Homo sapiens: one gene and its partners. The protein of the gene in region 3 binds, or shares a complex with, the protein of the main gene of each other region. Each region holds a gene or a part of one and is shown on either strand. Other genes may lie near its edges. The genes, in order: LAMTOR2, FLCN and LAMTOR4.

Region 1 (7,515 bases), on a different chromosome or scaffold from region 3:
CACCTACTAACCATGTTACTCTGGGAAACTTAGTCTCTCAGAAATTCAGTTTTTCTTTCTGTAATCCCTACCTCATCCCAGTTGGTGAGGGTGCTAATACCATGAAATTTCATATCTGCCAACAGTTGTCCAAATGAGTGATGTTATTACTGTGAGCTCACCCCACAGACACTGAGAGGGGCATGGGAGTGGTAACCCAACTGGTATTTCTCCTCTTTTCCCATGGTAATGTTTTTCAAATTGCAGATTTGACCCCACAGTTAGGAGATAAATTAAGAAGGTTGATCAGCATTAAAAACCAAAAAAGAAAAAATGAAGTATATTACATGTAGTAGGAAAAGTATTGTTTCATGACTTTTGTTTTAGTGGGTCTATGTGTGTGTTGAGCTCTGACTTAAAATGTCTTTCTTAAAAAATTTTTTCCTATTTATTTATTTATTAAAATTTTTTTTGTAGAGATGGGGTCTTATTAGGTCACCAAGGCTGGTCTTGAACTCCTGGCCTCAGATAATCCTCCAGCCTCAGCCTCCCAAAGTGTTGGGATTACAGGAGTGAGGCACTGTGCTCAGCCTTAAAATGTATTTCTTTTTTTTTTTTTTTTTTTGAGATGGAGTCTTGCTCTGTTGCCCAGGCTGGAGTGCAGTGGCGTGATCTCGGCTCACTGCAACCACTGCCTCCTGGGTTCAAGTGATTCTCCTGCCTCAGCCTCCTGAGTGGCTGGGATTACAGGCACGCACCACCATGCCCAGCTAATTTTTGTATTTTTAGTAGAGATGGGGTTTCACCATGTTGGCCAGGCTGGTCTTGAACACCTGACTTTGTGATCCGCCCGCCTCGGCCTCCCAAAGTGCTGGGATTACAGGCATGAGCCACCATGCCCAGCCCCTTAAAATGTATTTCTTATGGCTGGGTTGTGGTCAAAACGTTTGAAAGCTATTGCCCTATAGCACCAGCTCTAGGCATCCAGTAGGAGTCATATGTTGAACTAAAAATGGCATTGGTTGTGCAGGGGGTAGGGGAGAGTAGGCAGTTGAGTTACAATGAAGATCCTTCCTGGAGAGTTCACCTTCTGGCCAATTTGAAAAAAACAAAAGTAAGTTCAGCAAACTTTTACTAGGTATTTATTGTATGCCAGGAACCAAGCACTGCACTCCCTGCCTCTCTGACCTCATCTCCTACTACCCTCCTCCATCTCACGTAACTCCAGCCATACCAACCAACCCTGTTGATCCTTGAGCAGGCATAATTCTGCCTCAGGGCCTTGGTACTTGCTGTTCTGTCCAAAATATTCTTCCCTCAGATAACCACATGGCTTGTCCCCCACCTTTCTTCAGATCATTGATCAAATGTCACCTTTTCAGTGAGACTGTCCCTGACACATACACCCAACAAACTCATACTCTTTCACTTCCCTGCTTTCTCTCCATTGCATTTTCAATACCTAATATATACTATATATTTTACTTATTTTAAAAAATGTGGCCAGGCACAGTGACTCACGCCTGTAATCCCAGCACTTTGGGAGGCCAACGTGGGTAGATCGCTTGAGCCAGGAGTTTGAGACCAGCCTGGGCAACATGGCAAAACCCAGTCTCTGGAAAAATGCAAAAATTAGCGAGGTGTGGTGGTGCATGTCTGTAGTCCCGGCTACTCAGGAGGCTGGGGCAGGAGGATCACCTGAGCCCAGGGAGGTCGAGGCTGCAGTGAGCCGTGATTGTATCACTGTGTAAGATTTATTAGGGCTGGGGGTTTTGTCTTTCTGTTTGCTATTTTTTCCCTAGTCCTGAGAATACTGCAAGGACCTAAATACTTGTCGACCGAACAGATACTAAGAAGTTCACAATCTAATGGTGACTTCCCCTTTCTGGACTTCATTTTCCTTTCTTTGAAAGCTTAAGGGGTTGGACTAGGGTCTGGAGACTGCCATGGTTCTGTGAGTCGGTGAAACTGGGATGACAACACTTTGTGTTTGCACGTCATTCTACTGTTTATACCCATTATTTCATCTGACCTTCACAACAACCCATGAGGGGAGCGGGGAGAGGGAAATTATTGTCTTCTCCTTAAACATGAGGTAAGGAAGCTGAGAGAGGTTAAGCGACTTACCCAAGGTTCCACAACTGATAAGTGGATGGCTGAGACCAGAACCCAAGTCAGACCTCTCAGGTCCAGGGATCCTTCCTCACCACCACTTGATGAATAGGGTCCTGCCTATTACAAATGCTGCTGCAGACCAACTCTTAGTAATCTTCCGGAGATCCTGTCCCTGCCCCTCCAACCATCCAGGATGGGGTCCAGGTCGCCCCCTTGGGATCCCCTTTGGGGGACAGGGGAAGTCTGGCTCCCCTCTCCATACCATGCAGTCCATGAGGATGAATTTGAGATTGTCTTCATTAAACGCTTGGTTCCCGTTCCGGTCGTAGGCGGCCCAGATGTTACTGGCTATGGCAGCGGTGACCCGGGCGTCAGTGTCCCCGTAACCAGAGTAGGCCAGCAGTGATCCCTCGTTATTCAGCAGCCTGGTGAGGGGCGGGGAGGGATAGCGATGTGCTCAGAGCGGGGAGTAAAACGTCTGGGTTTCCATCCCAAGTCCCACCAAGGGCACATCCAGCAAGGCTCTGGCCTGAGCGTGTCCCGGAACATGCCCTAAGCACCCAGCACACCGGCTTCCCTTTTCGACAGGGGACCTCCCGGCCGGTATCCCCAGCCGCTGCCCCCTCTGCCGCTTCCTCCCTTCCTGGTGATCCTTCCCCACCCCTCCCTCAGGGAGCCGCGCGCCGCCCCACTGCAGCGCTCGCCGCTCGGGTCCGTGGTCTGCACTCACAGGGTGCTCTGGACGCCTCCAGTGTTGGCTTGGCTTAGCACCTGGGTCAAAGCCTTGGGGCGCAGCATGCCTACGGTTCCTAACCCTGGGCTTTTGCACCCAGATCTCCGAGGTGCCTCCCGCGGGCCGCTGCCCGCTGCTTCCCGTAGTCCCGTTGGCCTGCTCCGGGACGCCCTGGGAGTTGTAGTTTCTTCGCCTGGCTATTGTGGTTCCGACTCAACCCCGCCCCACCGCGGGGGGCTCTGGGAATCGTAGTTCTTTGTGGCCTCGCGAGGCACCCTGGGAATTATAGTTCGCCTTTCCAAGCCGACCACGCGGTTGTTGGGGGGCGGAAAAGAACGGGAGTGAAAGGACAGCAGCAGCGCTGGAAGGACATTTAACCCCTTCGGGGAGAAAGGAATCAACGTGTCCGCTTGGCAGTCCACGATTCAATAATTATACTACATCCTCATATTTGTCAGGCACGCCTTTGGTTACTTTCAAAACAGTTTTCTCCGTTATGCACAATTCTGTGCGATGAGGCGAGAGGTACTATTATTATTATCTTGAGGAAACCAAGGCTCTGAAAGGCCACGCAGCCAAAACCCAGCTCCCTGGAACCGTTCTTAATAGACCATTCAGGCCGCGACCCTCGGGGCTATAGGGTCAGTCCCAGAGCTGAGAACCTAGGTGGACGTGCTTGGTGGGAAAACCCAACCTCCAAGTCGGGAAAGTCCCCTGGCCTGGAAGGGACTTGGGCTTCCAAGAAAGACCAAGTTATCACAGGGAACGGAGATAAAGCGGCGACACAGAAAGTCCTTTGTCCCGGAGCCGAGTTAGCCGCGGAGGGGGCGGGGAGGCTTTGGGCTGGAGGGGACCGCGGCACGGCTCGGGCGGGCAGCGTTGGGTCGCGGTCTCCCGGGGCAGTCCGCCCTCGCCCCCGCAATGAAGGGCACGCCCCTTCCCCCTCCCAGAGGCCCCCCAGGGGCCCCCGCCTGGCGAGACCCTGGCCGGGCTCCGGACCTGGGGCTTGGCCCTGGGCGGACCCCGCTGCAGTGGCCCCCCCGGTCCGCCCGGGGCGCTGTGGCTGCGGCTGGTCCGGAGGGGGCGGTGAAGCCTCGGGGAGGGGAGGGGAGGAGAGAGGAGGGGAGGGGAGGGGAGGGGAGAGGTGGAGAGAGGGGAGTGTTGGAGGCGCAGAAGCCGAGCCGGGCCGGCCGGGCGGGCGGGGAGGAGGAGGAGCCGGGCGGGCTGGCGGGCGGCCGGGTGGCGGCGGCGGCATGGCGGAGCCGAGCGGGGCCGAGACGAGGCCCCCCATTCGGGTCACCGTCAAGACCCCCAAGGACAAGGAGGAAATTGTGATCTGCGATCGAGCCTCGGTCAAGGAGGTAGTACAGCAGGCGGGGGGCGGGGGGAGCGCGGAGGAGGGGTCTGCGAAGAGATGGGGGGCCTCTCTGACGGTCCGGCGTCCCGGAGGGCCCCGGAGAGGAGGGCGGGGGCCGGCTGGGACTCCGAGGAGCTGAAGGCAAGGAGAGGCGGGTAGGGGGCGCCCTGCGAGGGGAGATCTGGGGGAGCGTGGCGCGTGTTGAGGGGCGGGTTTTGCCTTGTGGCCTGGGGGCGTGGTGGAGAGTGAGGAGGGGACACCTTGCACCGGGAAGGGGGAAGGACCCTGGGTTTGAGGGGAGTGTGCCGGAGTGGGGGCCCGGGCTAGGTGCTAACTGAGAGAACGGGCCGGGGGCAGGCGGAGAGCGCCGGCGCCTACTCTGTGCCTCAGAGAACGCCCAGTGTTCTCTGAGCGACGGGGCTGTCGGGGGAGGATTTCCCTGTGCCCAGATCCTTCCCACTCTTTCAAATCGACGTGGTTACATTTGGTTCTCAGCTCTTCTGAGATTTACACGGTGTGCAGTAGGTGCTCAATAAAATCTTGTTGAATGACGGACTGTTGCCTGTGTTCGCCACCCCCTGTGGCCGCTCCATAATTTCACATAGGCGGGGCTTAAGATAGGCCATCTGGTTGGAAGAGAGGGATCTGGAAGCAGCCTCTGCTTAACAAGTGCACTGTTTTTACTTAAAGTGTGTGTTGTGTTTTGTTTTGTGTTGTGTTTTGGAGGGGCTGGTAGAATTTGGGAAGTCTAACTCCATCCTTGCTCCCTCCCTAACCACATAGAATTACTAAATTTCAGAATTTAAATACTGTATGTTCCCTACAAAGCTGAATTTGAAAACGGCTCTCATTGAGAGGCAGTGTGTTTAGTTAAGAGCCTGGACTTTGGTGTCAAGACCTGAGTTCTGGTCTGCCTGGGGCAAGTTACCTTACCTCGCTGATCCTCAGTTTTCTCATCTTTAAAATGGAGATACGGCTGGGCGTGGTGGCTCACACCTGTAATCCCAGCACTTTGGGAGTCTGAGTCTGGTGGATCACCTGAGGTCACGAGTTCAAGACCAGCCTGGCCAACATGGTGAAACCCCGTCTCTACTAAAAATACAATTAGCCAGGCATGGTGGTGTGTGCCTGTAGTCCCAGACACTCGGGAGGCTGAAGCAGGAGAATCACTTGAACCCGGAAGATGGAGGTTACAGTGAGCCAAGATCGCACCTCTGCACTCCAGCCTGGGCTACAGAGCGAGACTCCATCTCAAGATAAAAATAATAATAAAATGAAAATAACAATATACTATATCTTTAACTGGTGAATAGGTAGTGCTCAATAACTGGCATCTATTTGTTGTAGTTGTTAAGAGAATACTGGGAATAGAGAGGAGAGAAAATTGGGTCTCAGAAGGCTGAAGGTCCAAAGCTGTTGAAGGAGTTGGGATGGGAGGCTGCTCTGCCTTACAGAGAACTAGGTGGAGGGACTGAAGCTGGGAGGCAGATAGCAGCAGGGGCTTTCTAGGGTGGGAGACTCTGGGATGGAGCTGAGAGAAGAGCCTCTCACTGGTTCATCTCCTTTGTTAAGAAAGGAGATGCTTATTGCAGCTGGAGGAATGGCGTCGAGACTACAGAAAGGACTTCCCATGACTAGAGATGAGAGCAAGAGAGTGCAGAAGGTGTTGAAAAAGAGTCAGGGTCCCTGGTAGGGGGAGTCCAGGCAGCCTCCACAGTGACCTCTGCCTCTTGATCACAGTTCAAAGAGGAAATCTCCCGGAGGTTTAAGGCTCAGCAGGATCAGCTGGTCCTGATCTTCGCAGGCAAGATCCTCAAGGATGGGGACACACTGAACCAGCACGGAATCAAGGACGGGCTCACTGTCCATCTGGTCATCAAGACCCCTCAGAAGTAAGTTCAGGAGCAGAGCAGATCCAGCTTCTGATTGGGCCTCCCCATCTGATACTTTCTCACTCATTGCTTAACTGTACCCAGAGGGCCTAAGCTGAGGCCCAGGCAGGTAGCTCCTGGATGAATATGATCTCATCTCTAGGGGAAGGGAACCTGATTTACCATTCCCAGAATGCCCTGAAGACAGATAATACTAGCTCCTTTCTCCCTCTGCTGGTTTACTGACTGCCCTCCCGCCATCACCCCACTCCAGCCTCAGGACTGCTCAGGAGGGGTCTTGGGTTAAAATAGTTGTCCCATAGCAAGCACAGAGATTGTCACGGTACCTTCCCTCTTCTAGTGCTCACTCCAACAGGATTCTCCTTTCTCTGTCCTCAGGGCTCAAGATCCAGCTGCTGCCACTGCTTCTTCCCCCTCCACACCTGACCCTGCCTCAGCACCCTCCACCACGCCTGCTTCACCCGCCACCCCTGCCCAGCCCTCCACCTCTGGCAGTGCCTCTTCAGATGCTGGCAGTGGAAGCCGGAGGAGCAGTGGTGGGGGGCCCTCTCCGGGGGCTGGGGAGGGATCCCCCAGTGCTACTGCGTCCATACTCTGTAAGCCCTCAGAGAGGAGAGCACAATCTTGTTTGGGGTTGGGGAGTTGGGGAAAGCCAAGAGGAGGGAGAAACAGGAGTTCCTGCTCCTGGTCTGATGGGGATAGGGGACCCCATGACAGAGTTCCAGACATTGATACTTGAGTCAAGCTGGGGAAGAAACTAGTCTGAGGAGTTCTCAGAGGTGGGGACCATGGCTAAGGGTTAGGAGTGAGGGGAGAAATGGGGTTGGGGATGTGGGGAACCCTAGGTAAAGGGAATGGAAGACCCTGTGAGTCTGGGGAAAAGTTGGATCCAGCAGTAGCCACATGGGCCACTCATTCAACAGACCATTGCTGGTTGCCTTCTCTCTGCTCAGTTCTATGTTTGGCACAGCCTCAGTCTAGTAGGCTCACATTTTTTTGCCAGCAGTGGATCAGGGCCGGGCTGTGGGAATGACAGGAAGAGGGACATGTGAGAAGCATTTGGGGCGTGTCCTGGAGATCTGAATTCAGTGGCTCTGGCTAAGTGAGGACACTGTTCTTGTGGCAGACTGTGACCCTGCCCCCTTCCCACAGCTGGCTTTGGGGGCATCCTGGGGCTGGGCAGCCTAGGCCTGGGCTCTGCCAACTTCATGGAGCTGCAGCAGCAGATGCAGCGGCAGCTGATGTCCAATCCTGAGATGCTGTCACAGATCATGGAGAACCCCCTGGTCCAGGATATGATGTCTAACCCTGATCTGATGCGTCACATGATTATGGCCAACCCCCAGATGCAGCAGTTGATGGAGCGGAACCCTGAGATCAGCCACATGCTCAATAACCCTGAACTCATGAGGCAGGTGAGTATGAGAGGGCTGGAGAGC
Region 2 (7,179 bases), on a different chromosome or scaffold from region 3:
CAAAACCAGCTCAAGGATGCCCCAGCAGCCTGGCGGTGCCCTCCTTCCCAGGTCTGAGGTGCTCCCCATCCCCCATTCCTTACAGGCAATTCCAGCAATGGATGCAGCTCTTACACGTCCTCTGCTTCTGCAGCAGAACCAAAAGAACAAGCTTGGGTTCCCGTTTGCACTGCAGTGGCAGGTCCAACACCCACCCCTGATTTTGGGCCCTGACCCAGGTCCTCCACAAAAACAAGTGGCCCACTGGGGAAAACTCACACTAATTCCCGAGAGTTCAAGAGCTGATGGAGTGACCCACCGAGAACACTGGGGGTCCTGGGAGCAGGAAACTCCACTGGGAGCACGGGACTTTGGGGACCCGCCTCCAGGACAGGCTGGAGTGTGTGAATACAAACATGAAGGCCACGGCAGGGAGGCAGAGTGGGTTAAAGAAGTTAACATAGGCTGGGTGTGGTGGCTCACGCCTGTAATCTCAGCACTTTGGGAGGCCGAGGCAGGTGGATCACCTGAGGTCACGAGTTCAAGACCAGCCTGCCCAACATGGTGAAACCCCATCTCTACTAAAAATACAAAATTAGCCAGGCGTGGTGGCAGGCAAGTGTAATTCGTTATTCGGGAGGCTGAGGCAGGAGAATTGCTTGAACCCGGGAGGCAGAGGTTGCAGTGAGCCATGATCACACCATGGCACTCCAGCCTGGGCAATAAGAGCAAAACTCTGTCTCAAAAAAAACAAAACAAAACAAAACAAAAGCTACAGTCAGGATGAGCGGAAAGAACTGAAGGGCCCCTGAGAAGCAGTCTGTGTCACCCCGGGAGGCCCCGTCCACTGCTCTCAGGTCCTCCTGTCCATCCCACACCTACTGCAGGGATCACAAAACCAAGACCCCAAAGACACTTGCCTCGCACATGTCCGACTTTTTGGGCCCCGGGCTGCTGGACTCGACGCTGGCCCCCTCTGCGGGGCTGTGCGCACGCATCCGACTGTTCATCTGAATGCCACCTTCCTCTTCTTCCGCCTGCTCACCCTGGCCAGGACTGTCCTCATTCCCATCCCCTTGAGGAAGTGGGGCGTGCAGCACCTCCGTGCAGAAGAGAGTGCGGGGGCCGTGGAGCTCGCAGAAGTGGCAGAGAGCCACGATGGCATTCATGGTGCCTTGGAGACTGCAACAGGCCTGCGTGGGACAGGGGACATGTCAGCTTGCCAATGCCTATTGACTCCATGAAACCTCCCCAGCCCCTCTGGAGCACAGGGAGCACCTGGGTGCCATGGACTTCCTGCCCAGGAGAGGCCACCCGCCAGTTCCCCAGCCCCCTGCCAGCACTGCTTTGCCCCAGTGCGAGAGGAACAGAGATAGGATCTTCCCATGGGAGTCACAGCAAATAGGGGAGGGGACAATGTGGACCAATGATAGCACAGCTGGAGCTGTGACAGAGCCACAGCCACAAAGCCAACGGCGCTGGAAAGGAATGTCCTCAAGTGACATGAACTGCAGCCAAACCTGGCAAACCCTGTGAGAACAAATAGATAAAAGGCCACAGGGAGAGGGTCCTCCACCCAATACATATCTGCTTGGCACCTGCTCCATGTGGGCCAAGGTGCTAGGCAACATGATACTGCCCTCATGCAGCTTACCTCCTGCAGGGGGTCGGCGGGGGACACAGGAAAACTGCTTCCTGCGAGAGGCCCACGCAGGGAATGACCAGAGGAGGCAGGAGCCTGGAAGGACTGGCTTACGGGGCCAAGCAAGAGTTGAAGGGCAGGGTGGGTGCTGTACTGTCTGAGGGGTGTGTAAGGTCCGGTGTCCAAAGAGCAGCAGCAGACAGGGTGGAGGCTGTAGGAAGCAGATCTTATAGCTCCTCCAGGCCACCGAAAGACCCTGGATGTGTTATCAGAGACTGGGGAGGCTTTGGGGGTTCTGATGAGACATGAGAAAATGTGAATTTCACTTGAATAGGTTCACTCATGCCCATGTGCAGAAAAGATGGCAGGGGGCCAGGGTGGAGGTGGGGAACAAGCTGAGGCACCCTGCTGACTGATCTGAGCAGGAAGGGACAGTGGCCCAGGCCAGGCAGGGTGAAGACGCACAGTGCGGGTGGGGTGCAGAGTGCGGAGCAGTGAGCAGGGGAGAAGGCCCAGTGAGTGCCTGCTGAGCCTTCACGGGGACGGGACACAGCAGCAGAGCCAAGCGCTGCGGTCGGGGCTGACGCATGGGACCTCCGTGGAGTGCAGCCCTTGTAGACTCAGAGGTGGAGAAGGGAGGACAGCTAGCCAACATGACCAAGCACAGGCAGTGAGGCCAGAGGGGAGCTCCAGAGTCACCCCAGTGACCAGGTAAACTGCTTTAGCAAGGTGGGACTGGAATGTCACATGGCCTTAAAAAGGAAGGAAACCCTGCCACAAGCTACGGCACGGCTGAAACTGAAGGACATTACACGAAATGATCTACACTGGTCACAAACGGATAAACACTGTAGGATTCCACTTAAATAGGAGGTACCTAGAGTCCTCAAAGCCATAGAGACAGAGAGCAGAATGGCAGCTGCCGGGGACTGGGAGGGAAGAGCGGGGCTCAGTTCTGGAGACGGAAGGTGGCGATGGCCGCACAGCACTGTGAACATACTTCATGCCACGGCACTGCACGCCGAACAGTGGTTCAAATGGCGCATTTTAGGTCATGTATTATTTCACCACAATCTTTTTAAAAGGGGGAGTGGTAACCTGCAGAACAATGATGAAGTCAAAGGTGACCTTAACACAGTTTCCGGTGGAGAAAAAGCTCACAGGAGTGGGTAGAGAGAGCCCTTTGGAGAGTTTCCGTGGCAGAGCCAGCAATGGGACACCTGGTGGGGACATGGAGTCAAGGAAAGCCCCAAGCTTGGCCACAGTACAGCTGCGATGCCGGCGGAACCATGTGAAGGCCAGGGGCAGCTGCAGGCACAAAGTCTGAGGGACACCAAGCACTCATTGCAGAGGGATGGCCGCGGCAGCATGAGGCAGTATGCCTTCCTAACGAATGCAGGAAAGCCAGAGAAGGCTTTAAAATGGGGGTGTGTCATGGGGTTCTCACTGGCAGAGAAGTTCTGGAAACGAGACCGCAAAAGCAAAGGTGCACAGTGGGGACAGCCACAGCCAACAGCCTGACATGTGACACAGCCTGACACATGCAGCCAGACCCACATTGTCCATACGGTGGCCACAGCTATGTGTGACAACTTAAATTTAAAATTTAAATTAGCTAGGAGAGGCCGGCACAGTGGCTCATGCCTGTAATCCCATGAGCCTGTAATCCCAACACTTTGGGAGGCTGAGGCGGGTGGATCACTTGAGGTCAGGAGTTTGAGACCAGCCTGGCCGACGCAGTGAAACCCTGCCTCTACTAAGAATACAAAGATTAGCCAGGTGTGGTGGTGTGCGCTGGTAGTCCCAGCTACTCAGGAGGCTGAGGCACGAGAATCACTTGAACCTGGGAGGCAAGGTTGCAGTGAGCCGAGATCGCACCACGGCACTCGAGCCTGGGCAACAAAGTGAGACTCAGTCTCAAAAAAAACCAAAAACAACAAAAACAAAACAAAATAAAACAAAAACCTTAGCTGGGCGTGTTGGCGGTCACCTATAAACCCAGCTACTTGGGAGGCTGAGGGAGGAGAATCACTTGAACCTGGGAGGCGGAGGTTGCAGTGAGCCAAGACTAGGTCACTGCACTCCAGCCTTTATGACAGGGCGAGACTCCATCTCAAAAAAAAAAAAAAAAAAGTAGCCTGGAGTGGTGGCGCACGCTTGTAGTCCCAACTACTTGGGAGGCCTAGGCAGGAGAATCGCTCGAACCTGGGAGGTGGAGGTTGCAGTGAGCTGAGATCGTACTACTACATTCCAGCCTGGGTGACAGAGTGAGTGAGACTTCGTCTCGAAAAAATTAAATAAATAGGCTGAGTGCGGTTGTTCATGCCTGTAATCCCAGCACTTTGGGAGGCCGAGGTGGGCAGATCACTTGAGGTCAGGAGTTCAAGACCAGCCTGGCCAACATGGCAAAACCCCATTTCTACTACAAGTACAAAAAAAATTAGCCAGGCATGGTGGCGCACACCTGTAGTCCCAGCTACTCAAGAGGCTGAGGCGGGAGAATTGCTTGAACCTAGGAGGCGAAGGTTGCAGTGAGCCAAGACTGCGCAACTGCAGTCCAGCCTGGGCGACAGAGAGACTCCGTCTCAAAATAAATAATGAATTAATTAATTAATATATTAGCTAGGACAAAAGCTCAGCCCTTCTGTCTCACCGGCCATGTCCTGAGTGTTTGCTAGGCACACACGACTCACGCCACCCCTCTGAATAGCCCAGGTCACAGAATATTTCTGCCTTCCCAGAAAGCCCCATTGCTTTCTGGGTGTGGCTGGCAGGGAATGGAGGGCTGGTGCTCAGTAGGTGCACTCCGAGAGGGAGGCAGACAGGCAGCGGGAGAGGAAACAGAGTTTCAATAAAGGGCCCAAGTCAGACTTGCTTGGGACGATGAAGAATCATGTAAGTTTCTGAATGTTTGACTGAGTAGTGGACACTGGCCAGGACCCAAAGCCTCTTCTCTTCTGGGGAGCCCCCACCCCTGTTACGGATCCAAAAGTCAGACGTTCTGTCTTCGCTCCTGACAGGCAGGCTGTGAACACAAACAAGGCATGGCCTGCCAAAGCCGCTAACTCTAGGAAGAAGCAAAGGACGATGTGCATGGTGGTGGGGGGTGCTGCAGCCAGCCTCTCTGCCGGCGGCCCATGCCTGGAACTGCTTCTTCAGCATGCCTGCGAATGCACCACCCACCTGACGTTTCTGCAGTTGGCTGCTTAGCTGCACGAGCTGCTCCGGCACCTGTCCTCCTGCTGAGATACGGCTGAGCACGAGTGGTCACACTGGGAATGGCAGAGGCAGACAGAAAACAGACATTTGAAGAGAACCTTAGCTGGGCTGGCAGTGAGGCAGGTGTGGGAGTCAGAGAGGGAGACCCTGGGTGTGGCTGGCAGGGAATGGAGGGCTAGTGCTCTGTAGGTGCACTCCGAGAGGGAGGCAGACAGGCAGCGGGAGAGGAAACATACGCATTTAACAGATGGCAGAACTTCTAGCTGGAAGGCCCTGAGAACTCAGCAAAGATGCAGGCTGCAGGACAGGAGAGGGCAGGGCTGGGGACAAAGGTCAGGAATGCTCCACACACCGTCACCTGGCTCACTCCTCACCACTCGGCCTCCACTTGCTCCCCTGCTCAGAGTACCCCTTGCCAGCCCACCAGAAGAGCTCCCCTCCACCCCGACACCCTCCCCTGCCCTGCTTTGAGTCGTAGCGCTCCTCATCGCAGAACTGCGCCTCCAAAGTGCCTTCCTGACACACAGGAAGCGCCACATTCACGTGTTAGATAAATGAGAGGACTGAGAAGTCGCCCTTGGAAAGATGACAGCTGTTGCCAAGAAAGGGGCGGAATCTAGGGGCGGCAGAGGTTCAGGAGCCACAGCTGTGGGGAAGGCCGGAGCCAGAGTCTAGTGGCACAGGAACCAAACAGACAGTTTCAATAAAGGGCCCACAGGGTTCACTATGATGAGTGGCTTAAAAATCTACTGCTCAACAGGAGATGGGGCGACCACTGATGGAGTAAGGGGTAGCAGGACCCAAAGGAAAGGTAAAGGCATTAAACTGCGAAAAGGAAGGCCACGCCTTTCTCTGAGAGGCATCAGGGGAAGAGAAATAAGGTTCCTTCTAGCAAGACATGCACAGGACAGCAAGCCTGGGCCAAGTCTCAGCCCACCTGCAGAGCACCCACACTAACCTGACACTCAGCAGAATCACGCTTCCACCGTCCACACCAGACCACCACACACGAGGCTGCTGCCAAATGGGTCAGGCATGGTGGTGGCAGACACCCTTGAAGACCTGGCGTTTTCTAGGTAAGAGAAAAAAAAAATTAGAGCTATTTCTAAGATTAGAGGCCTTCGTAGCATGAAAAATAATGGGAGCAGCTTACAGCCAGTCTCAAATAAGAACGTGTCTGATGAGGATGTAGACACTCCCCAGGGTTCTGAATGGCTTAGCAGGCCTCTGACCTTCTCAGCAGGAGCTGACATTTTAGCTGAACTCTTGCACCTCTGAGGCACTCTAAACCAGTATTTGATCAAGGATCTCTGTATTTATTTTTTTAGAGATAGGGTCTTGAGGCCAGCTCAGTGGCTCATGCTTGTAATCCCAACACTTCGGGAGGCCAAGGCAGGAGGATTGCTTCAGCCCATGAGTTTGAGACCAGCCTGGGTAACACAGTGAGACCCTGTCTCTACAAAAAATTTTTAAAAAAAATTAGCCAGGCCGGGCGCGGTGGCTCACGCCTGTAACCCCGGCACTTTGGGAGGCCGAGGTGGGCAGATCAGGAGGTCAGGAGATCGAGACCATCCTGGCTAACATGGTGAAACCCCATCTCTACTAAAAATACAAAAAAAATCAGCCAGGCATGGTGACAGGCGCCTATAGTCCCAGCTACTCGGGAGGCTGAGGCAGGAGAATGGCGTGAACCTGAGACGCAGAGCTTGCAGTGAGCCAAGATCACGGCACTGCACTCCAGCCTGGGCGACACAGCAAGACTCCATCTCAAAAAAAAAAAAAAAAAAAAAAATTAGCCGGGCATGCCTCTAGTCCAAGTTACTTGGGGGACTAAGTTGGGAGGTCACTTCAGCCTGGGAGGTCAAGGCTGCAAGTTCCCATCTTTCCTTTTTTTTTTTTTTTTTTTTTTTTGAGACCAAGTTTCACTCTTGTCACCCAGGCTGGAGTGCAATGGCGTGATCTCAGCTCACTGCAACCTCTGCCTCCCAGGTTTAAGTGATTCTCCTGCCTCAGCCTCCTGAGTAGCTGGGATTACAGGTGTCTGCCACCACACCTGGCTAATTTTTGTATTTTAGTAGAGACAGAGTTTCACCATGTTGGCCAGGCTGGTCTCGAACTCCCGACCTCAGGTGATCCACCTACCTCAGCCTCCCTAAGTGCTAGGATTACAGGCATGAGCCACTGCATCCAGCCAAGTCCCCATCTTTCTTACTCTTGGTTATAAGGGGGTGCTCTGGCAGCATCTACATCACACCAACTTACTTTTCAGGCCATAGGCCTGGCAGTTTCCTTCTCAAGCAGGAGAGGGAAACCAGAGGCAACGCTGACAAGCCACTTCC
Region 3 (2,965 bases):
CCCGGCCCTTTACCCTGGTTCTGAGTTTACAAAGTCTCTTCCTCATTCCCGTTGAGTTCTTTCCCACCTCTGACATTCCCTCCCTCCCTCCCGCAGGGCTGAGATTAGAGGGTGGTGATGGCTAAGGGCCCCTGACAGTGACCTTCCTGTCTCAGGGGTTGGGGACAGGGCCAGGTAGCCTCCTGCCCCTTATGTTTACGTTTGCAGCCTGAAGCACTTTAATTTTTTTTTTTTTGGTCTGTTCCTGTAACTTATTTTCCAACTATTGCTTCCAACTGAAATAAGACTATTAAATGCCTGTTCAGGAGGGAGAAGGATGACTAGTTTGTGTACTGATGGGAAGAGCAGAGGTCGCCAGGGCTCAGGGTGACTCCCTTCCCCTCCAGCTTTTTCTGCTTCCCAGTTTTATAGCACACAGAGGTGGCCCTGCCGCACCCAACTTGGGCTAAGGTGCATGACTTTCTCCCCAGAAGGTGGAAGACAGACATGGGGTGTAACCATTCCAACACTAAACACACATGTCCCTGGGCTGGAGAACATCAGACTCATGTTTATTAGGGAGTGAGGGAGCACAAAGGGAGGTCTCCTTGCCCTTGTTCTCCTTAACACAGCTCAGAGTCCCCAAGCCTGGGCCCGTCCAGGTAGGGGTGGGAGGTGGGCGAGCAGAAGGCCCTAGTTCTAGCAGCAAGCCAAGACCGACAGGTGTGCCTGCCTCATCACAGAGGCCCAGGACCCAATCCGCTTCTCCGACCCTCGCCCTCCGGCAGGCTCAGACATCAATGGGCTCCCGACCTCGGTTCTGCCTCTTCACCACAAACACCCTCTGTCCTGACACCGTCACCAGCAGTGTGTGTTCTCCAAAGACCACTGGAGGAGAGACACACCTTCCCCCGCCCCAGGAGAGGGAAGGGAGCACAGAGTTAGTGGGTGCAACAGACTCCATGGGGCGGGGCCACACGCACATTGGCTGGGATCAAAGCCAAAGAAGTTCTATAGTTCCAGGCTCAGAGATTTGAAGATGAGTGGCCTCTGCTAGATCTCCTTTCTCTTGCCTTCTCATTCACAATTCTGATACCAGGGAGTCCCAAAGGGAGGAAAGTGGCCAGACCAGAGACCCCAGGAGATGGTAGGAGGCTGGAAGAAGAGAAGCCGAGAAGCCCCTGGAAGTAGCCCCCCGCTCCCAGTACCACCACCAAGGGCAGGGGCAGGGGCTCACCAGACAGGCGCTTGAAGGGCACATTCATGCCGCGGTGCAGCCGGAAACCGCAGGCTGTGCTGACCAGCTCAGAGATGGCACTGGCTGCCTGCTCATCATTCTCCAGGTCCCCAGATGACTGCATGCAGACGGAGGAGGGAGAGGGGCGGGCATTACGGCACAGGCTCAGGAAGGAATTCCAGGCACAGTCCCCTTGGTTCTCACACTTAGACCCTCTCCCCCTTGGCTTGCCAGTACCCTCAGCTTTGGAAAAAAACAACCTGAAATCTCCCCCTATAATGTTGTCACCCTCCGGATGCCATCCTGTTTCCCATAATACTGGCCTTCCCCGGATGAGCAGTAACTTATCCATCTTTTTTTTTTTTTTCTTTTTTGAGACGGAATCTCGTTCTGTCACCCAGGCTGTAGTGCAGTGGTGCAATCTCGGCCTCTCGGGTTCAAGTGATTCTCCTGCCTCAGCCTCCCAAATAGCTGAGATTACAGGCACGTACCAGCACCACCACATCTAGCTAATTTTTTATATTTTTAGTAGAGACGGGGTTTTACCATATTAATCAGCTGGTCTCAAACTCTTGACCTCAAATGATCTGCCCGCCTCAGCCTCCCAAAATGCTGGGATTACAGACGTGAGCCACCGTGCCTGGCCATCCATCTCTTTATTGACCATGCTTTTCTAACCCCATAAAACTGGATTTCTCCCATGTCCCTGCCTATTTGATAAAGCCACATTCTCCAAAATGAATGCCTGCCCACCACTTACCTGTTAATGGCTCCATCTTTTTCTGTCTTCACACTTGCTGCCCTGTTTGCAGAATCTCAAACATAAACATTCCCTTTGTCCTTGAATACCTCCCTCTGTTGACCCCTAGAGTAAGTGATGGGACAGTGGCTTGGGCTTCCTCTTTTCTGGTGACTGTCTCAACTTCCTCTTCCCTCTTCCTTGATATGGGCCTCCACTAGATTTAGTTCCTTTTGCTGAACTAGCAATATATATTAACTGCTATTTTATATCAAACTCAATGTCTAAAGTTGGGCCATCAAATTTCACCTTATCCTTATCCACCTCCTTCCCAATCCACTTCTTTTTTTGATTTCCTGTTTGTTTGTTTGTTTTTTGAGACAGAGTCTCACTCTATCACCCAGGCTGGAGTACAGTGGTGCAATCTTGGCTCACTGCAACCTCTGCCTCCTGGGTTCAAGCAATTCTCCTGCCTCAACCTCCCAAGAAGCTGGGATTACATGCATGTGCTTCCATGCCAGGCTAATTTTTTGTAGAGATGAGGTTTCACCATGTTGGCTAGGGTGCTCTCGAACTCCCAACCTCAAGTGATCCACCCACCTCAGCCTCCCAAAGTGCTGGGATTAAAGGCGTGAGCCACCACGCAGGGACATGTTTCTTAAGGCATCATCACTCTTCCAGGCTTTAGAGTTCTGGCTACAGAAATATTTCCTCTATTACCTATTTCTAGTCATTAGCAAGATATACTGATTCCTCCTTTAAAATAACTTCTTCCAGCCAAGCACAGGAGCTCATGCCTGTAATCTCAGCACTCTGGGAGGCCAAGGCAGGAGGAATGCTGGAGGCCAGGAGTTTGAGACCAGCCTGGGCAACATAGCAAGGCCCCTGTCTCCACACATTTTTTTTTTTTTTTTAATGGCTGGGCGTGGTGGTGCTTGCCTGTAGTTCTAGTTACTTGGGATGCTGAGGCGGGAGGATTGCTTGGGCCCAGGAGTTCAAGGCTACAATGA

Evidence for each region.
Region 1: LAMTOR4 (region 3) and LAMTOR2 share a complex: the UniProt entries of both Homo sapiens proteins name them as parts of the ragulator complex.
Region 2: LAMTOR4 (region 3) and FLCN share a complex: the UniProt entries of both Homo sapiens proteins name them as parts of the lysosomal folliculin complex.

What each region holds. Positions count from the first base shown.
Region 1 is NC_000001.11:156,050,267-156,057,781, reverse strand, and holds the start of LAMTOR2 (ragulator complex protein LAMTOR2), read right to left. Parts: upstream 3,001-7,515; 5' UTR 2,893-3,000; coding exon 2,825-2,892; intron 2,520-2,824; coding exon 2,357-2,519; intron 1-2,356. Other genes in the region: UBQLN4 (ubiquilin-4), read left to right, coding at 4,081-4,188, 5,925-6,076, 6,455-6,672, 7,229-7,491. UniProt on the Homo sapiens protein: As part of the Ragulator complex it is involved in amino acid sensing and activation of mTORC1, a signaling complex promoting cell growth in response to growth factors, energy levels, and amino acids.
Region 2 is NC_000017.11:17,226,990-17,234,168, forward strand, and holds part of FLCN (folliculin), read right to left. Parts: intron 5,913-7,179; 5' UTR 5,799-5,912; intron 4,894-5,798; 5' UTR 4,805-4,893; intron 2,842-4,804; exon of another isoform or gene 1,173-2,841; 5' UTR 1,149-1,172; coding exon 900-1,148; intron 1-899. UniProt on the Homo sapiens protein: Multi-functional protein, involved in both the cellular response to amino acid availability and in the regulation of glycolysis.
Region 3 is NC_000007.14:100,151,769-100,154,733, reverse strand, and holds the end of LAMTOR4 (ragulator complex protein LAMTOR4), read right to left. Parts: intron 2,019-2,965; exon of another isoform or gene 1,977-2,018; intron 1,335-1,976; coding exon 1,217-1,334; intron 885-1,216; coding exon of another isoform or gene 868-884; coding exon 770-867; 3' UTR 531-769; downstream 1-530. UniProt on the Homo sapiens protein: As part of the Ragulator complex it is involved in amino acid sensing and activation of mTORC1, a signaling complex promoting cell growth in response to growth factors, energy levels, and amino acids.